4 linked regions of the Homo sapiens genome follow. The protein of the gene in region 1 purifies or fractionates together with the protein of each later gene. This does not show direct contact. Each region holds a gene or a part of one and is shown in the gene's direction. Other genes may lie near its edges. The genes, in order: G3BP2, POM121, NUP214 and IGF2BP3.

The links.
Region 2: the proteins of G3BP2 (region 1) and POM121 purify together in Homo sapiens (affinity purification with mass spectrometry; 3 studies listed by BioGRID and IntAct, with this or other methods). This does not show direct contact.
Region 3: the proteins of G3BP2 (region 1) and NUP214 purify together in Homo sapiens (affinity purification with mass spectrometry; 4 studies listed by BioGRID and IntAct, with this or other methods). This does not show direct contact.
Region 4: the proteins of G3BP2 (region 1) and IGF2BP3 purify together in Homo sapiens (affinity purification with mass spectrometry; 3 studies listed by BioGRID and IntAct, with this or other methods). This does not show direct contact.

What each region holds. Positions count from the first base shown.
Region 1 is NC_000004.12:75,670,367-75,678,613, reverse strand, and holds the start of G3BP2 (ras GTPase-activating protein-binding protein 2), read left to right. Parts: upstream 1-5,202; 5' UTR 5,203-5,406; intron 5,407-5,456; exon of another isoform or gene 5,457-5,595; intron 5,596-5,719; exon of another isoform or gene 5,720-5,801; intron 5,802-5,912; exon of another isoform or gene 5,913-6,108; intron 6,109-8,247.
Region 2 is NC_000007.14:72,942,008-72,949,231, forward strand, and holds the end of POM121 (nuclear envelope pore membrane protein POM 121), read left to right. Parts: coding exon 1-1,515; intron 1,516-3,578; coding exon 3,579-3,701; intron 3,702-4,129; coding exon 4,130-4,227; 3' UTR 4,228-6,292; downstream 6,293-7,224. UniProt on the Homo sapiens protein: Essential component of the nuclear pore complex (NPC). The repeat-containing domain may be involved in anchoring components of the pore complex to the pore membrane. When overexpressed in cells induces the formation of cytoplasmic annulate lamellae (AL).
Region 3 is NC_000009.12:131,128,330-131,135,848, forward strand, and holds part of NUP214 (nuclear pore complex protein Nup214), read left to right. Parts: intron 1-2; coding exon 3-154; intron 155-949; coding exon 950-1,148; intron 1,149-2,436; coding exon 2,437-2,507; intron 2,508-4,266; coding exon 4,267-4,330; intron 4,331-4,776; coding exon 4,777-4,880; intron 4,881-6,568; coding exon 6,569-6,675; intron 6,676-7,519. UniProt on the Homo sapiens protein: Part of the nuclear pore complex. Has a critical role in nucleocytoplasmic transport.
Region 4 is NC_000007.14:23,467,306-23,475,183, reverse strand, and holds the start of IGF2BP3 (insulin-like growth factor 2 mRNA-binding protein 3), read left to right. Parts: upstream 1-4,692; 5' UTR 4,693-5,073; coding exon 5,074-5,248; intron 5,249-5,536; exon of another isoform or gene 5,537-5,608; coding exon of another isoform or gene 5,609-5,948; intron 5,949-6,641; coding exon 6,642-6,702; intron 6,703-7,878. UniProt on the Homo sapiens protein: RNA-binding factor that may recruit target transcripts to cytoplasmic protein-RNA complexes (mRNPs). This transcript 'caging' into mRNPs allows mRNA transport and transient storage.

The sequences.
Region 1 (8,247 bases):
CAAACTCCTGGGTTCAAGTGATCCTCCTGCTTCAGCTTCCCAAGTAGTGGGGACAACAAGCATACCCCATTGTGCCCAGCCAGACTCTTTAAATACTATGCTGTTGACAGCATTATCATTTGTTTTAGTCTATTTGGGCTGCTATAACAAAATACCTTTAGGTCAGGTGTGGCTCATGCCCGTAATCTCAACACTTTGGGAGCCTGAGGCAAGAGGATGGCCTGAGGCCAGGCAATCAAGACCAGATTGGGCAACATAATGAGACCCTGTGTACACACACACACACACACACACACACACACACACACACACACACAAGCTAGGCACGGTAGTGCACACCTGTGGTCCCAGCTACTCAGGAGGCTGAGAAGTCGAGGCTGCAATGAGCTATGATCGCACCATTGCACTCCAGCCAGGTGACAGACAAAGCAAGAACCTGTCTCAAACAACAACAACAACAACAACAACAAAACCACCCTTCAACTGGGTAACTTATAAACAACAGAAACTTATTGCTTATAGTTCTAAAGGCTGAGTAGTTCAAGATCAAAGGGCCAACCCTAGTGAGGGCTTGCTCTGCTTCAAAGATGGTGCCTTCTTGCTGTGTTCTCACATGGTGAAAGGGGCAAAAGCACAAAAGAGACTAATGAACTCCCTCAATCCCCTTTTATGAGCACACGAATTCCATTCATGAAGGTGAGGCCCTCATGACCTAGTTGCCGCCTGAAGGTCCCACCCACCTTTTAATACTTTTGCATTGGAGATTAAGTTTCAACATGAATTTTGGAGGGGCACATACATTCAATCCACAGCATCATCCTTCCTAACTGAATTAGTAGTGGGGCCAAGACATTTGTTTTGCAAGCCTTAAAAGTTTAAAAACATGGTGAGTAAAGACACTTTCCAAGAAAAATGCGTTTCCCTTAAGGACTTGGATTTTACTCCCTTCCAATGCTTGGTCTTCATAAACCTTATTTATGTGGGGTGTGTGACCCCTAAACATGCATGTAGTCATCTCTTTTTTTTTTTATTTTTTATTTTTTGAGACAGAGTCTCGCTCTGTTGCCCAGGCTGGAGTGAAGTGGTGCGATCTCGGGTTACCACAACCTCCGCCTCCTGGGTTCAAGTGATTCTCCTGCCTCAGCCTCCCCAGTAGCTGGGACTACAGGTGCGCACCACCATGCCTGGCTAATTTTTGTATTTTTAGTAGAGACGGGGTTTCACTATGTTGGCCAGGCTGGTCTCGAACTCCTGACCTCGTGATCCACCCACCTGGGCCTCCCAAAGTGTTGGGGTTACAGGCGTGAACCACTGCGCCCAGCCGCATGTAGTCATCTCGTATACACCTACTTCATCAGCAAAAGTGGTGATAATGGACTTGGTTGATCTTTTAGTATTCAGTAAAGTTGAGAATGGTCAAATGAAAGGGTGTAGAGGAAAAGCTTTATAAATTCAAATGTCTTATCTTATTCAAATACTTATCTAAGTATTTTATGCTGAAGTTTATAATAAAAATCAGGAATCAGGTAATATAATTCTAGTAATTTTACTTTTAAAAATTTACCTGCTAATGGTGATTGGGTCTGATTCATTTACTTTTATTTTTCACAGTGTTTTGATAAAGGTTCACATTAAAGGCCTTGGGGTGGTAATGTGATGAGAATGTCAAAGGAAGAGCTGGCTGGGGTGGTGTGAGAAAACCAGTGGTAAGAAAAGAAATGGAAGTAATAGGTAAGGACTAGATCAGGTAGGCCTTGTAGGCCATGGTAAGGACCTGAGATTTTGTGTTGCCTTTTAAAGGTTTTGGGACCATCTCAATTATAACTATGAAAGATCTGGCTGCTGTGAGGGGAACAGACTGTAGTGGAATAAGAGTGGAAGCATTGAGGCCAAGTAGAAAGCTATTGCAATAGGCAATGGTGGCCTGGACTACTATAGCAGCAGTAACAGTGATGCAAAGTATTTAATCCAGAATAAATGTTGAAGGTAGAGGGAACAGAAATGTATTGACAATTCGGCGAAGTGGGTGGATCACTTGAGGTCAGGAGTTCGAGATCAACCTGGCCAACATGGTGAAACCTCGTCTCTACTAAAAATAGAAAAATTAGATGGGCGTGGTGGCACATGCCTGTAGTCCTAGCCACTTGGGAGGCCAAGGCAGGAGAATGGCTTGAACCTGGGAGGTGGAGGTTGCAGTCAGCCCAGATCATGCCATTGCACTCCAGCCTGGATGACAGAGCGAGACTCCATCTCAAAAAAAAAAAAAAAAAAAAAAAATTATTGGCAATTGGCTGTCAATAAATTGGTGTGAGAAAAAGAGGTTTTTGGCCTGAGCCACCGAATGAATACCGTTCACACTGGTCTCCCTGCCTAGTCTATAGGAGGTGGACATTGCTTCATGGAGGCTATGTTTGAGAGGCAGGGAGATTAGTTAGGAGGCCACTGCAGTCTTCCTGGGAAGATGAAGGGGCCTGAACCTGGGCAGGGGCTATTTGTGTAGAGATATGTTTATGAGGTAAAAATCGCCAGTTAGAATAGGTTAGAGATATTTACTTAACATTGAAGATCGCTGAATCTTTTTTCCCATTAACTCCACTTATTGGTGTCTACTCAAGAGCAGGGTTACCTGAGGGCTGTTTCTGTGTAGCTCTAGAGCTAAACTAAAAATGTTTCTTAAATTTTTAAAGGATGCGAGAGAGAGAGGAATATGCAACAGAAACCATACGTGGCGCTCAAAACCAAAAATATTTACTATCTAATCCTTCCCTTATCAAACCGTTTGCCCACCTCTGCCCTAGATCAGTGGTGTTTGTTTTTTTTGAGACGGAGTTTTCACTGTTGTCACCCAGGCTGGAGTGCAATAGCGCGATCTCAGCTCACCGCAACCTCCGCCTCCCAGGTTCAAGCGATTCTCCTGCCTCAGCCTCCCGAGTAGCTGGGATTACAGGCATGCGCCACCACGCCCGGCTAATTTTGTATTTTTAGTAGAGACGAGGTTTCTCCATGTTGGTCAGGCTGGTCTCAAACTCCTGACCTCAGGTGATCCGCCCCCCTCGGCCTTCCAAAGTGCTGGGATTACAGTCGTGAGCTGCCGCGCCCGGCCTATATCAGTGGTTTTTAAAGTGTGGCTCCTAGAGCAGCAGTAGCACCATCAGCTGAGAACTTGTTAGAAGTGCAAATTCTCGGGCCTCTGTTGAATCAGAAACTTAGGGAGTGGGGCCCAACTATCTGTTTTAACAAGCCCTACAGGTGATTTCGGTGCACATTAAGGTCTGAGAACCACTGCTCTAGAGAAAGTTCTGCACCTCTGCAGGATACATGGTGAAGAATATTTATAATAGCATTGCACGGAAGAGCTCCAAACCGGAAACACTTGAAGGTTAGTCAGCAGTAGGGCAGATAAGTGAATTGCGGCAATTAGTACAATGGGAGTATTCTATAGTTTGCCTGAGGGTATGGACTGTGGAGGCAGATTGCCTGTGTTTGAATCCCAGCTCCAGTGAATAGTAGCAGTGTAGTCCTGGGTAAGTTACTTGACCTCTCCAAGCCTGTTTTCTCATCTATAAAATGGGCATAAAAATAGCAACTACTGGCCGGGTGCGGTGGCTCACGCCTGTAATCCCAACACTTTAGGAGGCCAAGGCGGGCGGATCACGAGGTCAGGTGTGTTCGAGACCAGCCTGGCCAACATAGTGAAACCTCGTCTCTACTAAAAATATAAAAATTAGTTGGGTGTGGTGGCATGCGCCTGTAGTCCCAGCTACTAGGGAGCCTGAGGCAGGAGAACCGCTTGAACCCGGGAGGCGGAGGTTGCAGTGAGCCAAGACCGTGCCATTGCACTCCAGCCTGGGCGACACAGAGAGACTCCATCTTAAAAAAAAAAAAAAAAAAAAAATATATATATATATATATATATATGTACATACATATAGCAACTAGCTCATAGGGTTACTGTGAGGCTCAGAAGGCTGTATAATTACAAGAATGCCTGGTATATAAGCCCAGTATATTAAAGGACAGCCGGCATGTAATGTATTTTGATGCTTTAAGGAAAAACATCAGGTTGATTTCATTAAAGTGATGGTCTGCCCAAATATTTTGCATATAACAGTATCTTTAAGCAGTCTAAAGGTAAAGATATTGTAGACTTTGGAGGCCCTAATGTTGGCATTGCCTCTGCCAATATTTAAGGTATTTGACGTATTGTCTTAACATGCCAAATACCTTAAAATTGCCCTTACAGGATTGCGAAGAAAACTGATGAGATGTACATGCTTGCGTCCACCATGTTTAGTTCGTAAGCATTCATTAATGTATTTTTTCCTTTCCGTTTCTTTGAACACTTCCTCAGTCCTTCATTCCAAAATTCCTGTGCTATCTCGGTATTCTCTGAAAACACTGCCAGACCTAAGATGCAAAGTGGCTTCCTTGACTACAAGATTTGGCTTGGCTTTGTCCATGAAACAAGGTCACCAGTGTCTCACCCTGGGGGCAAGTCTGGGCTTAGAGCTAGAACAGGACTGTAATCCTTGTATTTCAGGCCTTCTTTTAGCTTTAGTATGTAAAATGCTTTAGTATCTACTGATATTTAGCCATGCCTAAATTCGTAACAAGGACACAAAGAAATAGTCTTTTCCCCCTCTGTAAAGCCCACGTCATGTTCTTCCTTTACTGCAGGGCCTCTTAATGGGGCTTAAAACCTAGGATGGGTTAAGTAAACAATGTAGGTGAGTTTAGTGTGCAAACAGCTGAAATCACCGGCTGCATTTTAAGCTCGTCTACAGCAGCAACCTGCAGACACCTATTCAGAGAGATTACTAAATTCCCTCCTTCCCATTAATAAAAAGGACCAGAATATCAGTCTACAAAAGACACTGCGTTGCTGCGAACCAGCTCTCGCTTGCGCGATCAGGAAGAAGGGCGGCAAGGCTGGAGCCTCGGGACCGGAGAAAGGCAGCCTGCTTGTGACGTCAAATCAGCGGACTCTTATCTTGGCTTTAGGCCGGTTCCGGTTCCCCGGCTTTCCGGGCGCGAGCGTGTGCGAGCGCGGCAGCGTACTGCGCGTGCTCCGCAGAGGGACACGGGAAGGTTGGGTCCGGCTCTGGAGGAGATGCGTGATTGGCTGACGCTGTGCTCGGGGGTTCCCTGGCCCTTTCGGCAGGGGTAAAACAATAAGAGGGGGCGGTGGCAAAGGGGGCGGGACGTCCGTGGTCCTTGTCGCACGTCGCAGCGCCTGGCGCCCGGGAAGAGGTGGTTGTGAGGCAGACGAACTCGCGGCTCTCCGGCTTCCGAGGCTTCCGAGTTGTCGGAGGAAGGGGGCGGCGAGCAATAAGAACCCGCCGCACCCGGTCCTCAGCGACTCTTCTGACCTCCGCGCGACGTACCCGCCGCCGCCGTTGGCTGGAGGTGTGTACGGGCGCCGGGAGGGGAGGTCGGTGTGGTGGTCGGAAAGGGACATTCCATTCGCGCTCCGCGGCGCGAGGCAATCGTCCGGTGTGTGAGCCCGGGAGCCGGAGGTGTAGCGGCAGAGACATTGTTCTTGCCGGCTCCCTACGGTGCCGTGTGTGCGTGAGAGAAGACCAGTCTTTCCTCTAGGTGAGGGGTGGGAGGCCGCCTGGGAAGGGAGGTGACCCGCGAGCGTCTTGCGGGCAGAGGGCTCCGAGTGCACAGGTGGGGTTGAGGTTTATTGGGGATGAGGTGGCGAAGTGGGGGGGGAGGCACGCAGCAGCTCCCGAAGGCGCGCTGATGGAAGCTTAATACAGGAAGTGTGGGAGCAGGCTTTCTGGAGGGGATGTTTTAGGGTGGGTAGCCCACCGTTCCTGTTTCCGAATCGTTTTCGGCTCTTGTACCTTGTTCCTTCGGAGCGGAGAGGCCGTCGCCACCCCGCCCGTGGGGGGAGGGGAAAAGAGGTTGTGTCGACGGAGGCAGAAGCGACGCAGATGCGAAAGTGGCGGCCTCCGGGCACCATTTCTGTGCACGGAAACAGAATCCGGGTTTGAAGGCAGCCGCCGCTTCGCTTACCCAGTACCTAGTGTTCCGTCGTGTTTGACCAACCCCCCTCTCCCTGCCACCGCGGGTTTAATCCGAACGTGTTCGGATACTGGAACTGTAACGTGCGCCTTCTTCGTCCCCCTCTTATGCAGACGATCCCTTATTGACTCGGGAATGGCTTTTGGGGGATGGGTTCCCGCTTTTGTTGGGATGGGGGGACAGAAAGGAACAGAAGCTTCCCTAGATTGTGTTGATTTTGTTAGTGGAATCTGATAGAATTTTTCCTGCGTCTCTAAAAGCAGATTTCTTAAGATGGCCCTTTGCCGCTTTGGGGCGAATATAGATTTTCGTCTATAATTTCCTGCATAGATCAGCTTTTTTCCCCAAGACATACTTAATGTTCTAACGGATTTGGGGGGTGGGAGGAGAGTGCCTTTTCCTTCATAACAACAACAAAAAAAAGGCACTTGCACTTTTAGCTGGAATAGTAAAGTCCTGTTCTCCCTGTATGATTGTTGTGGGATATTAACTTGGATTAAGATACTGTGGTTTTAGGTTCAAGGCTCTGTACCTTGTTCTGGTCTTTCAAACGTTAGTGTTGCAGGTACCTGGATCTAGGAAACATTAACTGTCGTTAAGAGAGCCCCGGTGTACTAGAGTGGGAGATGATGGCAATTTTTCTCTAGCTCCATATTTGGCAGTTAATATAGCCTTAGGCATGTGAACCAAGTTTCTAAGTAAACTTTTGGCCCTGTTAGCATCCAGTGGTCTTTTTGATAATCCAAGATTCCTGGTCTTAGGAGATAAACGGTACGATGAGTTTGAACCTCAGGATTGAATTATCCTTTCTTTGGCAGTAACATTTTTCTTAAATGTTTAAGATTACTCTTATGGGCCTTTATGTTATGATTTAATCTTTACAAACTAATTCTGAAAAGCAGTCAAGGAATTGTAGGAATAATAAGGACCTAGAATGAATTTCTTACTAAGAGCTGTCATAGTTCAGATTGATATTCAGGGTCGAAATATTAGTAATAGTGAAAAAACATCAAGAGTGAACCAGAATGCTTGTGGGATGGATGGGGATAAAAATTAGAAGGTAAAGAAGAAAACACATTATTTGACCATTTCGTAGAGTAACTAACTTAACTGTTCAGTTAGCAGCTGAGCAGTTGATTTGTCAGCAGGCAACTCCTGGTTTGAAGAAAGTGTTGGCACTGTGTCTTTAGATTCTGAAAACTTCCCTCCTTATCCTGCAAAATTATCGCTGTTTATTACGCATAATTAGGATTGAACATTTTCCCCCTAGATTGCTTTAAAAAGACTTTCCACATATTTTGAGTGAATATGGAGACAGTGAATGACTCCTTTTCAATGTTGATTTTGAAAGGCACAAACTAAAGTGTTGCGTCTGAACTTAAATTCAGTAGAATTTAATGGACAAACATGACCTAGTTACTCTCCACTGGTAGACACTTGTTTTATATCCGATAGAATAAATTGGTCCACCCACCTTCAGGAAGGTCCTGGCCTACCTTCAGAAGCAATAGAATTAGTTTCTTGACTGTCGTGTTTCTGCTTACTTTTATCTGCTAATTTCCAAGTATTTTACCCTATCTTGAAACCATAGGTATATTGAAAATTATTCTTGGATTTTCTGTTGCTGTCCTGCTGTATTCCTTTGCTTTTCACTCTTCTCAACAGTTTCACATAAGCTAACAATTGCTTGTTTAAAATTAATTTTTTGTATTGTTGGAAGAGCTGGCTGCTCTTCCAAAGCGGTTGTTCCTAACCAAAGTGTAATGAAAACATCAGTTGAGTCAGGAGTCAGGAGACCTGATTTCAAATCCTCTTTCTTTTTACTGTAACTGAGGAACCCCAAACACCTTTCCTTAGGCTCTCTAAACATCCTTTTCTGTAAATGAAGATAATGCCCTATCTATTTTAAAGACAAAAGAAAATAGTAGGTTACTTGTTAAACTTTAAAACATAGTATAAATACATGCTTTATTTTTGTGGACAGCAAGCATTTCCATTTCTTACTGCTTGGTCACTTTTAATAGCTTCTGAATTTTAAAACTAGCCTCCCTCAACTTCTGAGAAGGACAGAAAACAAAAACACCTTTTGGAGCCTGAATAAGAGATTTAATCCATAACTTACTTTTATTATTTATTTGTACCACTATGATTCTTAGATCTTCTTTGTGAAGCTTTCATTCAATGGTGTACCACAAAAGATTGAAGGTCATTTCTTTA
Region 2 (7,224 bases), on another chromosome or scaffold:
CAGCCACTGACACCAAGGCACCTCCAACCCTTCAGGCAGAGACGGCTACCAAACCCCAAGCCACATCTGCCCCGTCCCCCGCCCCCAAGCAAAGCTTCCTGTTTGGAACACAGAACACCTCACCTTCCAGCCCTGCCGCCCCTGCTGCATCTTCAGCACCTCCCATGTTCAAGCCCATTTTCACGGCTCCACCCAAGAGTGAGAAGGAAGGCCCCACACCGCCTGGCCCTTCAGTCACAGCCACAGCGCCCTCCAGCTCCTCCCTCCCCACGACCACCAGCACCACAGCCCCGACCTTCCAGCCTGTCTTTAGCAGCATGGGGCCACCTGCATCTGTGCCCTTGCCTGCTCCCTTCTTCAAGCAGACAACTACTCCCGCCACTGCTCCCACCACAACTGCCCCGCTCTTCACTGGCCTGGCCAGCGCCACCTCTGCTGTGGCTCCCATCACCTCTGCCAGTCCATCCACAGACTCTGCTTCGAAGCCTGCGTTTGGCTTTGGCATAAACAGTGTGAGCAGCAGCAGTGTGAGTACCACGACCAGCACCGCCACTGCCGCCTCACAGCCTTTCCTCTTCGGGGCGCCCCAGGCCTCTGCTGCCAGCTTCACCCCGGCCATGGGCTCCATATTCCAGTTTGGCAAACCTCCTGCCTTGCCCACAACCACCACAGTCACCACCTTCAGCCAGTCCCTGCACACTGCCGTGCCAACGGCCACCAGCAGCAGCGCTGCCGACTTTAGTGGTTTTGGCAGCACCCTCGCCACCTCCGCCCCGGCCACCAGCAGCCAGCCCACTCTGACGTTCAGTAACACGAGCACCCCCACGTTCAACATTCCCTTTGGCTCAAGCGCCAAGTCCCCGCTCCCATCATATCCGGGAGCCAACCCCCAGCCCGCATTTGGGGCCGCTGAGGGGCAGCCACCGGGGGCCGCCAAGCCGGCCCTTGCCCCCAGCTTTGGCAGCTCTTTCACTTTTGGAAACTCTGCAGCCCCGGCTGCTGCACCCACACCTGCACCTCCGTCCATGATCAAGGTCGTGCCTGCGTACGTGCCTACGCCCATCCATCCTATCTTTGGCGGTGCCACGCACTCGGCGTTTGGGTTGAAAGCCACGGCTTCGGCCTTCGGCGCTCCCGCCAGCTCACAGCCCGCCTTTGGCGGCTCCACTGCTGTCTTCTTCGGTGCAGCCACCAGCTCCGGCTTTGGAGCCACCACCCAGACCGCCAGCAGCGGGAGCAGCAGCTCGGTGTTTGGCAGCACAACACCATCACCCTTCACGTTTGGGGGTTCGGCAGCCCCCGCTGGCAGTGGGAGCTTTGGGATCAATGTGGCCACCCCAGGCTCCAGCACCACCACCGGAGCTTTCAGCTTTGGAGCAGGACAGAGTGGGAGCACAGCCACCTCCACCCCCTTCGCAGGGGGCTTAGGTCAGAACGCCCTGGGCACCACCGGCCAGAGCACACCGTTTGCCTTCAACGTGAGCAGCACAACTGAGAGCAAACCTGTGTTTGGAGGTAAGGAGGGGCGTGGACTTGGGCTACCGGGCCGGACACTGAAAAGCTGTGCCTGCGAAGCCTGTGGTCTCGGGGAGCTTATGCTGTGGCAGTGAAGAGACAGGCACTGAATATAGAACTCAGTGAGATGCCAGGGAACGATACATGTTTTGCTAACGTAGTAATGACTGGAGGAGCCATTGTGGATTTAACTGGTCAAAGGCCTTCTGAGTAGTTAACAATTGTAAGCTGAAGGTTGGGCGCAGTGGCTCACGCTTGTAATCCCAATATTTTGGGAGGCCAAGGAGGGTGCATCACTTGAGGCCAGGAGTTCAAGACTAGCCTGGACAACTTGGCGAAACCCTGTCTCTACTAAAAATACCAAAAAATTAGCCGGGCGTGGTGGTACCCACCTGTAATCCCAGCTACTCAGGAGGCTGAGGCACAAGAATGGTTTGAACCCAGGAGTTGGAGGTTGCAGTGAGCCAAGATCATGCCACTGTACTCCGGCCTGGGTGACAGAGCAAGACTCTGTCTCAAAAAACAAACCGTAAGCTGAATATGGGGGTGGGCACAGCACAAGTGGACATGCCTTTCAGGCCCAGGATGGCGCATGCAAAGGCCCAGAGGCAGAAACATGTTTGGTATGTTGAAGAGCAGAACAAAGACAAGCATGGCAGGAGGGCAGGAGCTAAAGCAGTGGTGTGGAAGGAGGCCAAGAGGCAAGGATTGTTTGTGGCCAGGGTTGGGTGTTTGGGTCTTAAGTGTTCAGGAAAACCATTGCAGAATCAGGCAGAAGGATGCAGTGATGGTTCCTCCCATGTGGAAGATGAATGTAGATCCCATGGCTTCTGTTTGCTTCGTGAAGTAGAGAAAATCTGGGAGAGAGAGGGTCAGGATAAAGTGTATAAAAAAAGGGGTCTTTTGAAATAGTCATTTTGGACAGTGGGGGAAAGGAACATCATATTAAAAAGTGTGATCAGTTTCCAGGCAGTTTGTGGGCTGGAAAATTGTGATTGTGAAGTTAAAGTGAGGCCAGTTAGCATGGCATGTGTTTCCCAGCGACACTGTGGGTGTAGACCTAAGGTCAGCGGACAGCTGGTGCCACCCGGCCATGGAGACCCCAGCAAGCACAGCAGGAGGGGCAGCGGGTCAGTGCCCCGATGCAGCTCAGGGGGTGCAGGAGTGGAGAGCGGGTGAAGTCAGCTGCAGGAGGGGTGGTGCCTACAGGAGATTCGGGAGCCGGAGCAGTTGTGGTGACAGTGTGGCTGCAGGAGTGGTGGCAGGGGTCGGGGAGAGGAGGTCATGGGGGTGGCAGGGTTGAGGGGCTGAGAGGACCATCAGTCAGCCTCACAGGGCGAAGTCACCGTGAGTGGTGATGGGAAGGAAGCCAGTGAGCCAAGGGTCCTCTGTGAATCAGGGAGTGACCTGGCAGTTGACAGGTGACATGAGGACATGGCAGATTAAAGTGATCTGAACTTGAGTTACGGTATTTAGGGAAGGAAGAGAAACAGTGTGGAAGCAGCGTGGGAGCACAGGGAGCTTCCTCTTGTCCGGGCCGGAGGCCAAGCCCTGAGAGCAGCCATCCCTGCAGAGGGGCTGCCAGAGAGGGCCTCGGGCAGGCAGCCAGAGCCAGTCAGGGCAAGGCCGGGGAAGGGAGGGGACCACGGGGCATCACAAAAGACGCGGGACGGACAAACCAGGCTTCAGAGGGGAGGGGACGGTGGCTGGGGGAAAAGGCCTGAACAGAGGAGGTAGCCAACCCAGGTACGCTAGGAGGCGGGGGCCCCAGAGTACTCCCCTCTGCAGCGATGGTCAGGAGGCCCACGAGGTGGCTGCGGGGCAGGGGGGCTTTTTCTCTGCCCTGGCGTGGCCATTAGCGGGTGGGAGAAGCAGGCTGAGCTGGGGCACCAGGCATGAAGACTCGGTTGTCTGGCTCAGCTGCTGATGGAGGAGTGCCCCAGAAGCAGAAGTGGGGCTGAGGGTCCCGTGGGAAGTGCCCTGCGGAGCACAGGCTCCTGCCCGGCTCCTCGCTTGCCTCTGCCCTCTGCTCACTGGCCAGCTCTCTGTTCTCTTCATTCCAGGCACCGCCACCCCCACCTTTGGTCTGAACACCCCTGCGCCTGGAGTGGGCACATCAGGCAGCAGCCTCTCCTTTGGGGCATCCTCAGCACCCGCCCAAGGCTTTGTTGGTGTTGCACCTTTCGGTAAGCAGCAAGCCACCCTGTGGCCCTGCTCATCTGTCTGAGGAGGGGTTGGGCGGGGTGGCAGGTTCCTGGTCCTCTGAGGCCCGGTGAAGATCAGGTTCAGCACAGGAAAGACATTTCGGGTTAGGAGTCCAGCACAACCCAGGGATGGGAGTTGGATGGCAGAGATCAGAGAGGAGCTGTCCGGGGTGGAAGTTTGCCTCCCATGGGAAGCCAGGTAAAAATGGATTCTTGGGCCTCGCTCTGAGACTCTCTGGGAGTTTGCATTTCAGGAGGCTTCTCCCGTACAGTGTTTCTGATGCAGCGGGGAAAGCCCTATTGAGGCACCCTGTGTTTTATTACTGGCCTGGCCTTCCAGAGATTTGGGCACCCAGAGTCAGAGTCTCAGGTAGCAGCTGCCCTGATGAGGTCTTGTTGAATCTTTCCAGGATCGGCGGCCCTTTCATTTTCCATTGGTGCGGGATCCAAGACCCCAGGGGCTCGACAGCGACTGCAGGCCCGAAGGCAGCACACCCGCAAAAAGTAGCCTTTGTCCCCTGTCCCTGTTCCCCCCACCCCTTCCCTAAATCTGGACCTTGGCACCTGCTAGGAAGAGCCTTGGACCCTTCCAGTTGCGTAAAGCAAACCTACCCCGGATCTCTGGCTTCAGCCGCCAGGGGGCAGTGGCAGCCCTGGGGCCCTTTCCCTTCTGGAGGAAGCACAAGCCTCAGGGAAGGGGAAGCAGGATGCGGAGGGCCAAAGCCCGGGACCTCTACTTGAACAGTTCTACTGGGGAGGCTGGAGAACTAAGGAAACACCTGTACATAGTGTCCGCTGCCCTGACTCCCGCTTAGCACACCCTTAGGCAGGCGCCCCTTCCACCTTTCCCCGAGACCGTCGTCGCTGGAGGGGGCAGGGTCCAGCCCGCCTGGATCGGTGGTGTGCACCTGATGGGATTTGGGAAATGGGCTATCCGTAAAGCTTTATCTTGCTTGGCTTAGCTGTGAGAAGTGGTTCTCTTCCTCTGGTCCCTTCTGGGGACTCTGTTTCCCCATTTCTTGCTGCTGTGTCCCTCACCAGTTCCTTGCAGGATTCCTTCGTTTTTAAATGCCCTTGAATCTAGCTTTGCCTTGGAGACCCCAGTGGGTGCTGCTCCTGCCGTTTTCTTCCTGCCAAGCCTGAATCAATGTTTCATCTCCAACCCTCTGCCAGTTTGGCCCCTCAGAGCTTGGTGGCTCAAGACTGTTAGCCTGGCAGAGCCAGGGGTGAAGGGAGAAGCTCTTGGAGCAGGCAGGATGCCCACCGCTGCTTCAGCTGCCTCCTCGCCCAGCTACCCTTTGGCCCCATTGGGCCCTCGTCTGCCTCTCCAGGATTGTATGTTTCAAGCCTTGTCCTGTGTTCCTTTGTCTGATGCTCTGTGTATTGCTCTTTGAATCGAGTTTGGAGGAAGAGTTGAGTTGTATGAGTGGCGGCATGTTGGTAGTGCCGGACTTCCTGTTTCAAGTTTTCTGGGGCCTCGCTAATTGAATGTGGAAAGTAGCACCACTTGACGGCTACAAGTGCCGACTCCTGAATTTTCCCATGGTGTTCTGACTTCAAGGGCTGGCAGCCAGGGAGAATGGGCCCAGGGGAAGCAAAGACCTCTTCCCTCTGCCGTTTCTGTCCCACTTAACTGACCTCACTGGAGGCTACATCACCCAAAGTAGATGTTAGAAAACCTAAATTAATGAACCATATTTTTAAAATCCTATTTTTCCCAAACAGGGCCCTCTGCAGCCCATCCTTTCCTTCCGTCCTTCTGAAACCACATACCCCAGGCCCAAGCGCCTTGCTGCCACGCCCAACCTCTTTGGGAGAAGTATGAATGCGTGTGTCTAAATTAAAAGAAAAAAATATTTAAACGTTTTTTAACAAAAATTTATTTTTGTATTTAAGCTAAATTGCCTTTTAAATTCCTTCAAGCTTGGTTCATTGAGGTGGTTAAGTATAAATGCTATTAACTAGGAATTAGCTGTATAGTTAAGTTATGCCTGTGCAAAGAAGAGGCTCAAATGCTGTCCCCGGCAGCTTTCCTGGGGGACTAGAGCTCCTTCTGGCCATGTTATATGAAATGTAATTCTTATTTTATAAATAATGTGATGTAAATGTAACTGGTGCCCCCTCCCCGATGTGACTGAGGGTGAGTGAGTGGTGGCGGGGCTGCTCCTTCCCACCCCTCAGAACAGCTCTGATCCTCGTTAATACCTGGCTGCGTGTGCAGCTGAGGAGGGAGTGAACCTCAAGCCTAAATACCTGTTAGGATTGGAGGGTCTGGGTGGGCCTGGGCCTAGCAATCAAGCTTCTACCTGTACCTTATGTAAGGTAGACCCTCCTAGTGTCAGTACCTGAGCTAGTTTACCTCAGTTCCGCAGGCAGGACAGCCGGTCCGGGAACCCTGAGTGAGAATGAGTGTGGATGTGTACAGTACACGCACTGGACGGCAGCGGGAGGCTGGGACTTTCCATTACAAATAGAGACTTCATTCCTGTTGAGTCTAGTTGGAATTTTTAGTATGAATGTGAGATTTTTCTCCTGCTTGTGACATTAAGAATAAAAAACTGTGATCTATCGTAGAGTACGTTCTGCATTTTATTTCTGCAGGCAACACTTTTGCTCACCAGCAAGAACACAGCCCGAGGAAGGGACCCAATAACCTTTCAAAACGCAAACTGCTGCCTGCGGTGAGGGCCCAGGGTCTTCCACGGAGAGGACAGGCATCTTCCTTTCCCACCAGGAAGGAGTGAGCCCGGAGCCTCTGCTATGTGCAAGGCGGTGTGCAAGCACCGGCTGCAGCTTTTTGCTCTCTTCTTTCTCTTTGGGGCTGGGCTGGGTGTGCGTTCTGGTGCTGATGCTTTGGCCTGTGAGGCTGAGCTAGAGAAATGTAGATGTTAGATGTGCCAGTACCATCCTGCGCCTCCCAAGCATGCCCCCACTCACTCACGTCGGCATCTCGACCCGTTCAATTACAGCAACGAAGAAGCCACCGCTAAGCGTGGTCTTGGGGGAAGCCCGGAGGCAGTGCTCGGCACCCGGGAACGTGCTCAGGCCTCGGTGGGGCCGGGCAGGCAGGGCGGGAGCTAGCCTGCAAGAGAAACAGCCCCAATGCTGGGTAAGAGAGCAGTTCACCCCATCCCCCCCTCCACGACCCTGGCGCACGCCCTGTACCTGAAGGCGCCCGGGTTCTGCTGCAGCGCATCTTGTACCATGTCTTCATTCTCCTCCTGGCAGAGGGAGCACATGGAGTAGACGAGCCGCTGCAGGGAAGGGAAAGTGAGCGCGTGGCACAGGGCTCGCTGCTGGAACCCTGCCAGGGCATGCAGACGCACCGGGCTAGGTGTCCCTGCCCCGGGCTCCTCCAGCTGTCTGCTCGGCATACCTAAGGAAAAGCGTGTCTCGGTTACACAGCTTCACAGGCTGCCTCAGTCCTGAAATCCTCGCTCCTGAAATCCTCGCTTCACAGAGGAGAACTTTTGCTCCAGGGTCCCAAGCCCATTAAAGTGTCAGA
Region 3 (7,519 bases), on another chromosome or scaffold:
AGTTGATAAAGTCCAAGGCTTGCTAGTTCCTATGAAATTCCCAATCCATCACCTGGCCTTGAGCTGTGATAACCTCACACTCTCTGCGTGCATGATGTCCAGTGAATATGGTTCCATTATTGCTTTTTTTGATGTTCGCACATTCTCAAATGAGGTAAGCTACTGTTATACTGTGATGTCAACATGAGAACCCTAAGCAGATTTCCTTGTATTGAATTACAACTTGGAAGCTTCATAGGTTAACCCTTGAAGTTTCTCTCTAGATTAAAATATGGGTTAAAAAAAAATCCTTAATTATAGAATCATAGATCTTTGAGACAGAAGGGACTTCAAGAAATTCTTTCATAACGCCATCTGCCCTAAGTTGTTATCAGGAGGCTTAGGTGACTTGCCCAAAGTCATAGATGAATACATAATGTCAAAAGTTCCTACATTTTGGATGTTCTTCCATTCCAAGCAGTTTAAGAATGATAATAATAGTGAGTGTTTATACTGACTGTGTGTGTTAGACTCTGTACTAAGTGCTTTATATGCCTTGTCCCTCGTTCATGCCTACCACAGCCTTATGTAGTAGGTACTATTATCTTCATTTTATAGGTAGAGAAACAGGCTCAGAGTTTAAGTAACTGTCCAAGGTCCCAACATTATTAAGAAGCAGAGCCAAGATTTTAATCTATTGTCTGCTATTTATTGGTTATTTTGCAATTGTGCATTCCCCTTCTGAGAGTCCCCCTAAGCATGTTAGAATAATTGATTGCCATTTTCAAAGTTGTGTTGAAATTGTCTATAGCAAATAGATTGATGCATAAAACAATCTTTTTTTATGGTTATGGAGAAAAATAAACTGATTTGAGATACCTTGTGTATTCAGTAATTTCCATTGAATATTAAATGTTTCTGCATTTACTATTTGTTAACTTATTTCACTTTTGCATATTTGTTTTAAAAGGCTAAACAGCAAAAACGCCCATTTGCCTATCATAAGCTTTTGAAAGATGCAGGAGGCATGGTGATTGATATGAAGTGGAACCCCACTGTCCCCTCCATGGTGGCAGTTTGTCTGGCTGATGGTAGTATTGCTGTCCTGCAAGTCACGGAAACAGTGAAAGTATGTGCAACTCTTCCTTCCACGGTAGCAGTAACCTCTGGTGAGTAATAAAGGCTTTCACACTGTAGCATACAATCATGGTCATCTACTTAAGAATTGATTTCTAGAAGTGAAAGTGGATAGCTTTTTGTGTTTTGGTTTTTTTTTTCATGACGAGGGAGGTTAAGGATGGAAGGTATTCTTTTTTGAGACAGTCTCACTGTGTCGCCCAGGCTGGAGTACAGTGGCATCATCTCAGCCACTGCAACCTCCACCTCCTGGGTTCAAGCAATTCTCGTGCCTCGGCCACCCAAATAGCTGGGATTATAGACATGCGCCACCATGCCCAGCTAATTTTTGTATTTTTTGTAGAGACAAGGTTTCACCATGTTGGCCAGGCTGGTCTTGAACTCCTGACCTCAAGTGATCTGCCCTCCTCCACCCCGCATATGCTAGGATTACAGGTGTGAGGCACTGTGCCCGGCTGAGAGTATTCTTTATACCCATAGTTAATGTCCTTGAAGCCAAACAGCATACATAATTTAACCTGAATGTACTTGGGATTTCTGGAGAAATATTTTGGTACAGCTGGTTTAGAAGTGTTTTTTGGGAATAATTGTTTCTGGATCTGTAACGGTGGTACTCTGAAAGTCATTTGTACCTTTGGGCGGAAAAGCATTTTAAATATTAAATGGGAGCAGGAGAATGATTTCTGGTTTTGTTTTTTTTTTTTTGTTTTTTTTTTGAGACAGAGTCTTGCTCTGTCGCCCAGGCTGGAGTGCAGTGGCGCGATCTCAGCTCACTGCAACCTCCACCTGCTGGGTTCAAGCAATTCTCTTGCCTCAGACTCCAGAGTAGTTGGGATTACAGGTGCCTGCCACCATGCCCAGCTAATTTTTGTATATTTTAGTAGAGACGGGGTTTCACCATGTTGGCCAGGCTGGTCTTGAACTTCTGACCTCAAGTGATCCGTCCGTCTCATCCTCCCAAAGTGCTGGGATTACAGGCATGAGCCACTGTGCCCGGCCAGTGATTTCTTGGTATTTGGAAACCTTCTCTGTTCTCCTTGTCTTATGTAAAGACTACAGAGTTTTCTGTATTTTGCAGCTTTCTGGGCAGTAATCTATTGAAAAAGCATTTTTAGCTTTCAATTCAATAGCCCAGTGATAAATCAATTGGCTTATATCGTTAAAATGATTTTACTTTTTTCCACTTTGCCTGATAGAGATGATCCTACAATCTTCCATGGACTGACAGAGGAATGAGAATTGATAATTAGCTGTGTGTGATAGATCTTATTGGTTTGCTCCATTTTCTTGTTTTCATTTGGTAATACTGTCTTTGCTCAGTGTGCTGGAGCCCCAAAGGAAAGCAGCTGGCAGTGGGAAAACAGAATGGAACTGTGGTCCAGTATCTTCCTGTAAGTTCTTATCTTGAACTTCAGAATTTTTCTTAAGTTGCCCACTTTTTTGGGGGTGGTTTGGGAGTATCTTTCTTGTTTTTCCTATTAAAAAGTAATTTATACTCATTGTAACAAATCCATCAGTGAATGAAGAGTGGAACTCTTCCCTTTCCCATAGTCCTTCTTCCAGAGGCACCCACTATGTTGTGTTGAGTAGATAGCCTTCCATACTTTTCTGGATGTTATACAAATAGTCTATGGGTAGCTGCTTTTTTTTTGTTGTTGTTTTTATGTAAAATGTGATCATACGCTATGCGCTGTTCCCCACCTTTTTCAGTCCATTCCATAAAAACAGCTCAAGGGAAAAGAGTTAGTGAAAAAACTATGATGATAATGCAGAATCACTCTGGGTTAAAGCACAGTATTTGTCTTTTAACTGAGTCTGTCTTTAAAGGTCTGTTTGTCTAACTATGGGCACCAAAGAAAATGGATACTCTTGTTGCATGTGCACTCTGTCATCCTCCCTGTGAATTTCTTGAAATAATGTTCACAAATATCCTTCAATATCAATTGAGTTGCAAGGAACCCCCATATGTCTATTGAGCCTGGACACGAAGGAGGGATTCACAGGTGGTGCTAAGGCCTTTCTTGTGCCTTCCTCCTCAAGACTGTTCTCTGGCGAGGAGGGGAGCAGAGTGGTGAATGTAGGTGGTATAGGTTTAAGGTTAAGGTTATGTTTCTTATTTGTTATTACCAAAAGTTACCTGAAATTTGGTACATAATCTTTTAGGACACTAACCTGTAAAAAGATAATGCAATTTTTTAAATTTTCTTGCTTTGCTGTTTGCCTTAATTTTTTATTTATTTATTATTATTTTTTTTTGAGAGATGGTCTTGCTCTGTTGCCCAGGCTGGGGTGCAATGGTGTGATAACGTAATGGTTCACTGCAGCCTCAGCCTCCTGGGCTCAGGTGATCCTTCCACTTCAGCCTCCCGGGTAGCTGAGACTACAGGCACTTGCCACCATGCACAGCTAATTTTTGTATTTTTTGTAGAGATAGGGTTTTGCCATGTTGCCCAGGCTGGTCTCAAACTCCTGGGCTCAAGCAGTGTGCCCACCTTGGCCTTCCAAAGTGCTGGGATTACAGACATGAGCCACCTCGCCCAGCCTTATTCCACTATTGATGATTGTCTGCATCAGTGCTAGTGGCGTTGCTGCTGCAAATGGTGTTGCATTGACTACTCTCATTACCTATATCTGAACATGTTCATGCGTTCATGCGTTTCTTTTCTTTTCTTTCTTTTTTTTTTTTTTTTGGAGACCAAGTTTTGCTTTTGTCACCCAGGCTGGAGTGCAATGACGTGATTTCAGCTCACCGCAACCTATGCCTCCTGGGTTCAAGCAGTTCTCCTGCCTCAGCCTCCCGAGTAGCTGGGATTACGGCACCCGCCACCACACCCAGCTATGTATTTTTAGTAGAGACGGGGTTTCGCCATGTTGGCCAGGCTAGTCTCGAACTCCTGACCTCAGGTGATCCACCTGCCTCGGCCTCCCAAAGTGTTGAGATTACAGGCATGAGTCACCACACCCAGCCACGTTCATGGGTTTCTGTAGGATGAAGTCCTGGAAGTAGATAGCACTATTCTGTTTCTTCAGTCTCTCCCGGCCAAGGAGATGGAACAGGTAGCATCTAAGGAATAGATTAGATTTGACAGTTTGATTGGTTTAGGATTTGTTTCATTTGATACTTTATTTTCCCCTCCAAATCTCTTTCAGACTTTGCAGGAAAAAAAAGTCATTCCTTGTCCTCCGTTTTATGAGTCAGATCATCCTGTCAGAGGTAACAACTGCTTTTCTTATTGGGCTGACCTCTAATGACATGTTATGTATATTACAGAAATTCAAAATCATGTAATGTACCTGCTCAGTGAGGTATTGGTGTTTGCTTTATGAATAATGTCACTATTTCAAACAGCTAATTAAGTCAGTGTAAATTATGGCCCTCTGGGTGACATCTGTGTTTCACGATAAATGACATGAAATGGATCCCGACTTTTTATTACAATTCTTCATAATTTGCCCTGATTATAATCCAGCAGAAAAATTACCATTTGGGGATGAGTTTGGGCTTCTTGGGTCATTGTACCTGTGCATTATATTTAGTCAATGAAATCAGGGCCTTTGATTTTTTTTTTATCCATAGTGGCTATTCCAAACATAAGCTGCTTTTTCTTGTATCTGGTTGCTGTCATTTTTATGAGCTACTGATTAAGATGTGTCTTTCAGTTCTGGATGTGCTGTGGATTGGTACCTACGTCTTCGCCATAGTGTATGCTGCTGCAGATGGGACCCTGGAAACGTCTCCAGATGTGGTGATGGCTCTACTACCGGTATGCCTGTGGAAGAAATTTCATTGTTTGAGAATTAGAGAAGTCTTCTAATAAAGCTGGAGGCTTTGATTTCAAGGGGTTTTTTTGTGTTTGTGTTTTTTTTTTTTTTTTTTGAGACAAGATCTCACTCTGTCGCCCAGGCTAGAGTGCAGTGATGCGATCTCACCTCACTGAAGCCTGGACCTCCTGGACTCAAGTGATCCTCCCACCTTAGCCTTCTGAGTAGCTGGTACTACAGGTGCACACCACTATGCCTGGCTAATTTTTTTTTTTTGGTAGAGATGGAGTTTCACCATGTTGCCCAGGCTGGTCTTGAACTCCTGAGCTCAAGTGATCTGCCCACCTAGGCTTCTCAAAGTGCTGGGATTACAGGTGTGCGTCACCGCACCTGGCCTGATTTCAGGTTCTTTTACTTACTGGCAGTGATTATGCAACTTCAGGTATAAGGTTTCCATGCTGCACCATGGGCCAGGGGTCTAAAATTGGAGTGTCCACAGCATGTTCTACTGTTATGAGGTTAAAAAAAAAATGATTTTGCTTAAGCTATAAACTATGAGTCTTGGTTAACTCGATAAATTTTAGAAAAGCAAGACAGTATCTTGATTTTTAAAATTATTTCATTTGCTCTCGAATATTTAATGCCAACAGTGTGCTAGGCACTGCTTTAAAGCTGAGTATATAGCAGTGATCAAGGTGATGGGCTTGCTTTTATGGTTTTAAGTTTGTTGTTGTTGTTAATTTTTATTTATTTTTTAGAGACAGAATCTCACTCTGTTGCCCAGGCTGGCATGTAGTGGTGCGATCACAGCTCACTACAGCCTCAAATTCTTGGGCTTAAGCCATCCTCCTGCCTCAGCCTCCCGAGTAGTTGGGACCACAGGCATGCACCAACACAGCCAGCTGTTTTTAAATTTTTCGCAGAGGTAGGGTCTTGCTTTGTTGCCCACGCTGGTCTCGGACTCCTGGCTTTAAGCAGTTCTCCCGCCTCATCTCTCAGAGCACTAGGATTACAGGTTTGAGCCACCACACCTGGCTGGTCTTACATTTTAATGGGATAGTCAATACTAAATGTGAGATCAAGGACTGATAAGAGTGATGGAGAAAATAAAGCCGTGTTAGGGATAGATGATGACTGGTATGTGTTTGAGATTGTGTGTCAAGGGAGGCCAATTTGATACTTGAAAAAGATGTCTTGTTTTTAACTCTTTTGGATTTCTAATAAGGTTGAGTTTTTGAAATATGTTTATCTAGATGCCTTATTTTAAGATTAGAGGTTTTTTCTATTCTAGGGGATAATATTAACACTAGTATTTATTAACTGCTACTTATGTTTCATGTACTGGGCTGGAAGTTTTGTATGTATCATTTCATTTTACACTTTACAGTAGCCTCTGAAGTAGGCTTAGTAGGTCTAGTATACACATGAGAACACTAAGTATCAGGAAGGTTGAAAAATCTGCATGTCTCGTGGGCAGAAAGTGGCAGAACAGAGTTTAAATGCAGTTCGGTTGATGGCCAATGTTTGTACTCCTTGTACTAAGTGCTGCCTTTATACCATGTCCGTATATCTGGACTTTGAGTAAATATTCTCATATAACTTTAAATGATTTATTATTTGAGATTCTTTTGCTGTGGGATCTGAGAAAAATTGCACATGAGAATTTTTTTTCTTGCTTTGTTCATTGTAGAAAAAAGAAGAAAAGCACCCAGAGATATTTGTGAACTTTATGGAGCCCTGTTATGGCAGCTGCACGGAGAGACAGCATCATTACTACCTCAGTTACATTGAGGAATGGTGAGCAGAGAGTCTGGACAGGGCATTCCTGCTCTCACTGGAAGATCACACCTGAGTCACCTTGTCCCATGTTGAAATCTTTTCTGATTGATTGATTGATGGATTGGCAGGGTCTCACTCCATTACCCAGGCTGGAGTGCAGTGGCACGATTGTAGCTCACAGAAGCCTGGAACTCCCAGGCTCAAGTGATCCTTCCACCTCAGCCTCCCAGATGGGACTACAAGCACATGCCACCACACCTGGCTTATTTTTAAATAAGTTTTTTGGTTTTTGTTTTTTGTTTTTAGAGATGGGATCTTGCTATGTTGCTCAGACTGGCTTCCCAAAGTACTGAGATTACAGGTGTGAGCTACCGCACCCAGCCTGAAATCTTTTCCATTACAGAGGAAAATGGAGGCTGAGATGCCTTGAACATATTTTCAGCTGATTCTTGATAATGTCTTTCTATTATTTCTGTTTCCCCAATCTTGAATTATTTATCTTAAATACATACTAATTTCAAAAATCTAATTTTCTCAATAACCCCTAGTGATGACTTACGAAAATATTGATATTCAAGGAATATATTAAAAGTTTCCTGAGAGCAGAGTTGCCCTTTGGAATGGAGATTACTCAAAGCAAAGCTTCCATCCCTCTAGCTACATTATTCTGCCTTTGGATGGCATATTGATTGTGAACTGTGACTTGATTCTGTTGTGTCTTTCCTTTGTCTTCATGTAGGTAGGCACTGAGCTGATTCTACAGGGCTTTCTCACAGAAACTAAAAAGTTCAGCTTTACATCTAGAATCTTCCCACCTTTGTTCAACCAGATAAAAAACCTTACTCTCTCTTTGACATGTGGA
Region 4 (7,878 bases), on another chromosome or scaffold:
TATTTTTTCTCACCGTCTCCACCAAACGTCAGTGAAATTAGAACATTTCAGCTACAGAAATCGTTAATCCTTGAAGGTCGGTCTCAGCTTCATTGGTCTTAGGGCAGCTTCAACGAAAACGTGGTCTCAGCATAGTTGATTTTACCCGGAATTTTTCGTTTGCTTTTTTTGGAGGGGTTGTTTGATTTTGCTTAAAACAACCCTGTGGACCACAAAGGGGTTTAGGAAGGGAGCGGGCAGGGCGAGTCGATTTCTCTAGAAGCCCAGAAAAGTTCTGGTACCTGAGAACATGGTTGGTTGTAGTTGTTTTAAGTAAAAAAGGACGCATCAACTCTAAGATGTTGGAAATGGGCAGGGAAACGAAGATGTGACTCCAGCTGCTGAGCATGGCGCAAATCCAGAACCTCCGGGCGCTGGACGCTGGGGGAAGGGAAGGGACCGTGCGGGCACCATGCGGTCAGCCAAGGGGCGGGCTCCACCCACGGACGCAGAACTGCTTTCCACCCTTCCTCAGCGTTACCTCCCTCTTTCTTCCTTGGGGGTTGGGGCTGGGGGCGAGCTGTTAAAGGGCAGGAAAAACGAGAGCGAGCAGAGGGGAACACAGTCCCACCCCTCAACCTCAACAAAACCAACGAGGGAGCAAAGGGTTATTTTCGCGCCACAAAAGATGGAAATCCAGGGGCGGCTCCGGGGCCAATGAATGAAAACCAGCAAACCGCTCTGGCGGAGGCGGCCGACGGCGATAGGTTCCCCCCGTCAGCCAATCGGAAGCGAGGAGAGGCCCCCGCCCGCAGCAGGGGCGGTGTCTCTCTCGACGCCGGTTGCTCAACTTGGACTCGGCAAGCCGGCCCCGGGGAGCGCGGGAGCCCCGCCTTGGAGCCGCTTTTGCGCGCCAGTCTCGCGGCCCGCCCCGCAGACCCGCAGGGTTCGGCGAGGGATTCTCCCCCGTGGGTACCAAGCATCCCTGGGCCCTATGGAACCCCTCGTGCACACACGCAACTGAGACCAGAGGTGCGGGAGGGTCGCCAAACACACGCTGCCCGGTGCGTCCCCGCGCTGGCCGGCGGACTCAGGTGGGGTGGCGCGGCGACGGCCCGGCCACACGCTCCGCGCATACGGACGCAGCCCCAGGAGGAGCCAGAAGCCCGCGGTCCCGCGGCAGGGCCCCGGGGAAGGGCGGTCCAGTGGTCCAGGCCCTCCGAGGCGAGCCGGCGGCCGACGAAAGACCCTCCCCACTGTGAGCCGTGAGGATCCCGCCCTCTTTCTCGGGGCAGAGCCAGAGGAAAAAGGAAACAACCCCATCTTCTCTCCCGGGGCACCATTTTTATTTATTTTAAACAATAAAATATAGGCAGGCAGCTTCCAAGGAGGGCAGATCCAGGTTATCACTTATTAACGCCTCTAGTTTAAACAGATCAGAGTCCAGGAGGGCCGTTCAAAAGCGCAAGAGCCTGTTAAAGCACCTCCGAGGAGGCCCAGGCGACACGCCGGGCATTGTGTGCCCACCCGCGTGAGGGGTTTCGGCTTGAGACTCCAGGCTGGTCCCAAGCCGGGCGTGAGGAGGGGTGGCAGCCCCCCATCTGCCCACTCAGCCTTTGCCCCTGACGTGTGGGTACAGCAACGGTAACTGGCCTTCTAAACATAGCTATTCTTTAATATTACACTGACCCACAAGAAACATTTGTACAGTCCTCAGTTCAGCAGATAAGGAGGAGATGCAGCTGTCCAAAGAGTAAACAGACTGCAATTGGAAAGACTCAGCCGCATCCCAGAGCACATAAAATGGTGGGAGTTCTTTCTTCGTGGAGTTCACATTAATTAGGAGCTACAACTGCTTCAGGAAGAAGCTGAAGTAGCCTATAACCAGTTGATTTGTGTGAGAGTCATTAAAAAAAAAAAACTGGAACTTAAATTGATTTTATATTCATTCTTGAAAATTCACCAAAGGTATCTTTGTACTTGAAGTGCTAGTGCAAGACAACTACCTAAGATCTTTTGACTCAACCCTTAAATGCTTGGAAGACTGGAAGTGGAGTGGACTGTATCCACCTCTCTCTTTGATGTCTGAGCTTGTATTACTCATGTATGTTTTTAAGGTCCTAGATGGACTATCCAGTTTGTTACAATAATACACAGATTAGGTTAACAGGAGTCCCAGGAACATATTTCATCAAAACACACACTTGTTTTAAATTCCAGCTGTTAGATTTGTTTGATAGTGCCAGACAAGCATGGACTAGTATTTATGGAAAATAAACAATTTATTCCATGCTTTAGAAGTAGATATTTCCTTAGGTCTCAGTTTTAATAAGAGCAAATACAGTCAACCCAGAAGCCATAGTTGAATTGATTTTGGAAGCAAGCTGAACACACACAATTTGTTTTTATGAAAAATTACTAAAAGTGTTAAATGATCAACAGGTTGTAAAATTTACAGTGGTATTGAGAAGTGCAAATATTACCAAATGAATGAATGTAGAACATTTCTCCAAATGGCTTTTGTTCTACAACAGGTACATTTAAAATAAATCCATAATTTTTGATATTTACATTTTGCATACCACAGAGGCCAAAAGAAAGAATACATTTCTTCTTTAGAACTAAAGTTATTTTTAAAAAAAGAAAAAAATGCTTTTAAAAAGTTCAACCTAACCATAAACTTAAAGAAAAATTTTACCAAAACGTTCTTTCAAGGCTGAGCTCTTAATTCAGTTACAAATACTGTAACAGAAAAACACGTCTGTCCCCCTATTTTATAAAGTAACAACATTTTATTAAATTAAACGTGAATGAAATTATTGTGAAAGTGTGTTTACGTTTAAAATGTTGGATTCGCTTGGCAGGAAAGAAAAACCTGTAAGAAAGAACAGTTGCATTTAAAATGGATGATCTGACACCTTCCGGTTCCTTAACACAAAATTACAAAGTAAGTTCCCTTTAAAAGACAAAATGTAAATACTCTTTATATCATGCAACAATTCCCATGTTTAAGTCTACCATTCATCTTTTAAATGAAAAATACACATTTTAAAATGCTAACAACGGTTTTGACAGAGAAGCAAGGCTGTATCAATTACCGAAGATGTTTCCAGTGTAAATCATAATATTTCCTCTATTCAGGATACCTTTTTTCTACCAGTAAGAGTACCAAGTCATTAAAGATTCTTGTCTATATTTTCATGTTATATAGAATTTCTTTCACTTAAAAAATTAGAATTTTCTATCTTTTCAATAGAATACCTGTTAAAAATATACCTGTTAAAAACACACAAGTATCTGGTGCAAATGAAACCTTTGAGTGGAGTACACAATCTTTAAACGACAGTTGGAGATTCCACTAGAACCCCAGCACTGCCTTCGTTTCCGTATTGCTCGTCTCCAGTTCACATTTTGTTGGCCCACAAGGCTCCACCGGGCCCAAATCCTCCCCCGACAACCACCATTGTACTCATTACATATAGAGAAAATTATGTATGGCTCTCATGGCCAAATCCAGGCAGAAAAGAGGCAGAAAGAGACTCGAACAATTTTTCAAATGCGAATACCACCTAGGGGTAATGCACGACGGTCTTCCAGTTTTAAGTCTCAAGTTCTCCAACTAAAATTACTTAAATAAAAGTACCAGCCTACTCCACTCCTCCCCCTTTAAAAACTACAGGAAGAGAGGGTTTCCCTTTACCGACTTTTCCCACTTTGACTTCTCTCCTCCAGCGGCCCAGGCCCCCGACGACCCCAGCCCCTAGCCAGAAACCTCCGCCCCTGCACTCCCCTCCCCCACCAGTGGCCAAGCCCGCCCCCGGCCTCATTTATCCTGGAGCCTTTTCTGAATCGCGCAACCAATGGCAAACGCGAAGCCGAGAGCCACCGCGAGCGCAGGCGGAGGCGGAGGAGGTGTCGCCCAGACACCCGCCCAGGACGCTGCGGGATCCCATCCCCCACCACTCCGGGGCCGGGCCGCCCCCACTCGCGCGGTGCCCAGGGCCCGAGAAGGGCGCACGGGGTGGGGCGCGTCGCCCGCCTGTCTTGCCCCCACCCCCTGCCCCCCTCACCCACTCCCCCACCCCTCCTCGCAGCATTTCCGTCCATGCCAGCCTTAGAAACGTGCCTGCGGCTTTGCTGGGGTTACACTTCTAATGCCATTAAAGCCACCAGGCGAGTTCGGGATTGTGACTCTGGTTTTGTTGTTAATAACCTATTTTGAAAAATCGAATGATTAAAACTACGGTAACTAGCGCTGAGGAACTGCCTGTTAGTACCTCTGCCCATTTCCTCATTAAAAAAAAAAAAATCAATATTCCAGCCCTCCCTCCCAGGATCCGCCCAGACCAGATAACCCTTTACAAACTCGAGTTGTGACCGTCAGCGCCCCGCTTGGTGCCGGCTGCGGTTCCTTTAGCATTTTCCTTCTTCCTCCTCCCCCTTCTCAGAGTCCCTCTCCCAATCTCGTTTCCCCTCCCCCTCTTCCTCTCGCTCGCTTTTTTCTCCGAAACCCACTCTAATTGAGGCTCTGGGATTCCTCACGTGAGACGTTGATTTGTAGTTTGAACACGTGGCTCATTCAAAAAGCCGGACACTCGGAGCGGATTTTTTCCGCCTCCTGCGCCTTCCTCCCTCCTCCTCCTCCTCCTCTCCCCTCCCTCCTGCCAGTCACCCTTCTGGGTTTTTTATGGGGAGGCGGCGCCTGCCTCACGTAGTGTGATATTTTCACAGTCCGCTGGCCGAAGCCAAAGGGGTTGGGAAGGAAGAGACAAAAAGTAGTTTTTTCCCCTCCTCCTCCTCCTTTCTCTTGCTAATCCCGCCTCCTCCTAAGACTTAGGAAGACTGGTGGATGCGTTTGGGTTGTAGCTAGGCTTTTTCTTTTCTTTCTCTTTTAAAACACATCTAGACAAGGAAAAAACAAGCCTCGGATCTGATTTTTCACTCCTCGTTCTTGTGCTTGGTTCTTACTGTGTTTGTGTATTTTAAAGGCGAGAAGACGAGGGGAACAAAACCAGCTGGATCCATCCATCACCGTGGGTGGTTTTAATTTTTCGTTTTTTCTCGTTATTTTTTTTTAAACAACCACTCTTCACAATGAACAAACTGTATATCGGAAACCTCAGCGAGAACGCCGCCCCCTCGGACCTAGAAAGTATCTTCAAGGACGCCAAGATCCCGGTGTCGGGACCCTTCCTGGTGAAGACTGGCTACGCGTTCGTGGACTGCCCGGACGAGAGCTGGGCCCTCAAGGCCATCGAGGCGCTTTCAGGTGGGCCCGGGCCTGGCCCCACCCGGGCTCTCGCCCCAGCCCTGCACCGCCCGCCCAGGCCCACCGGGTGGCTCCGCGGGCCCCAGGCCCGGCGCGCTGGGGGAGCGGGGGTGAGGCCTGAGCGCCCACACCCACGCGCGTGGGGGCCGGGGCTCTCCTCAGCTCCGGCTCCCACTCCGGCCCGCGGCTCTGCTTCCCCGGCCGGGGTTTGCTGGGTGAGGGCGAACGCGCTGTCAAGAAAGCCCCGGCGCTGGCTAAGGGGGGCGCGGGGCTGGGGGAGGCGCGCTCCCCCGGCGCCCCGCCCGGGCCCAGGCGCGTGCTCCAGGCCCCGGCACGCTGGGCCTCGGGGGCCGAGCTAGAATGCCCGCCTGTGCCTCGTTCCTTCCTGCTTTCCTCGGTCGTTATTTACGGCGCTGTCTGTGCTGCGCCCCGAAACCCCCGGCCGTGGAGAACGGAAAGTGGCCTCGACCGTGCTGCCGAGTGAGACCGCGAGGCTGGTGCCTCGCACAGGCGGCCCCGCGCTTCCTCCCCACCCTGTGGGAGGAGAGAGTGTGTGCCCGGTTTCCCCGTTCCACCTCCCCTGGTCCGACGAGCGATAGGGGCAGGTGGGCGGGGGCGGCTGGTCGCCTGGAAGGGAGTCGCCGCCACGCACCGGCCGCCCGCCGCTCTCCGGGCCCTGGCGCGGGGCTGCGGCCTCCGGGTATGGCTCCGCCAGGGCGAGGGACGGTGCCGGGCGGAGCAGGACGCCCAGGGGGAAGGCTGCGTTGGGGTCCCCATGGGAGCCCCGTGCCTTTCGGCTTCCCTTTTAATCAATTCAGACGTGGTGCGGGCGCCTCGCCGTCCTTCGCGCCTGGTTCAGCCTGTGCCGAGCTGCGCCTCTGCCAGTTCTCCCGTTCGTGGTCTCCCCTGCCGTCCCCGACCCTTTCTCGCCACTCCCTGTCTTCCTCAAGCCCACCGCTGAGTGTTCCCGGCGGGTCTGGGCTGAAGCAGAGGGCAGGGCCAGGGCGCCCCCTCCTGAAGAAAGCCAGGGGAGCCCCCTGCCCCGAGTCTGCCCTGTGGAGCGTGTCCAGGGCGGTGAGAGGGTGGGCCGCGTCCCTCTTGCGGGCCTCGTGGTGTTGGTGGCCCCCAGGGGTGGGTGGGGGAGGCTTGGAGACTGGACTGATACCCAAGTAGTGGGCCCGCCAGCGGACCCTGCTCCCCAACCATCTGCGAGTTAAATGCCCACGCCGCTCGAGGGGGTCGGCTTCTCCCTCCGCCTGGAGCCGCGTCCGGGCCTCGGGGGCCCTTCGAGGGCCTCAGGAGGCCATTTGTGTCGCCGCTTGGGCTGTGCGGGTCTTCGGGCAGGGAGAGCCGCTGAACTCGGCCGACCGTCTCACTTCTTGTGTGTCCGCAGGTAAAATAGAACTGCACGGGAAACCCATAGAAGTTGAGCACTCGGTCCCAAAAAGGCAAAGGTGAGCTGCTGCTTCTGTTTGCCCCGATTCTGTTCTCACTCCGTTATTGGGTGGAGAGACTCAGCTGAGAACTTCTTGTCCTCTGGTGCTTACCCCCTGCCGTGTGGCGTGGTGTTCCGGTCTTTAATCCTTGCTTTTAAGTTTATGGCGGGGGTGTGTGTGTTGATGATGCTGGGCAGGAATTGAAAGCTTTTCTGTGGCCTCTGCCGCGGGATTATGGTTATTGGTTACAAAATCTCTCGAAAGCTCACAGCTGAATGTCCTCGGTCCGAGCGGGTCAAATTGCTCCTACGGGAAATGGGTCCCAACAAGCAGTTTGGGGGGTTTGCAGGGCTTGGGAAGCAGCGGATGATTCCCCCACCCCTCCAGGAGCAGGAGAGGCGAAAGCAGCTGCGGACACGCGGGGGTCCCTCCTTTCCTTCTCTGTCCGGGGTTGGGAGGCCGTGGGCGCGGCCGAGTGGAGAGGAATTTGCCTCTGCCCTGTGAGCTCGCCAGGGGTATTGGAACGCGTGCGTAAACGCTGGGGCCTCTCTGGCCCAGAAGTGCCTTTGAGTCACTCCGAAGTTCTACAGGTTCCTGCAGTCAGCACCTTTGTCTCCCCGCTTTCCACCCCACTCCTCCTGGGTACATTTTTGCTTACAACCACCAAAAGATGAAGACAGGAAGATTCGTACTACTTAAGGACGGGGATTTCTCGTCTCCGAGATCATGTGTGTAGTATGTCGCTTTACAGAATGTTTATAGACTGTTTTAGCCTCTGAAGCATTTTGGAGACATGGCTCTTTCCCTTTTTCTTTTTCTTATGAAGCCTTATGGAGCAGTGGAGACTCCTTTCCTTTCGCTAGAGCAGGCCGGATTCCGGCTCTATTTTTTTGTTTTGTTTTGTTTTTTAAAACCTTCAGCCAACTCACACCATAGATTCCGGCTCTAACTGCAATTGGAAAGGCACTGCTCCCTCCCAGTCGCACCGGGGTGGGCCTCTAAGCCTTTCTGGATTTTGCATGGTGGGGTTAGGGTTTCTGCCTGCCCCTCTCCCATCCCCCCAACTCCCAACCTGAGCCAAATAATAAGCTGAAAGTTAATTTAAATCAGGGCTGCGTGTATCTGGTTAGATATTGGTGAGAGAGTGTGTGCTGGAGAGCAGGAGGGTTTGCTATGCATTTCTCTGGTGCTGTG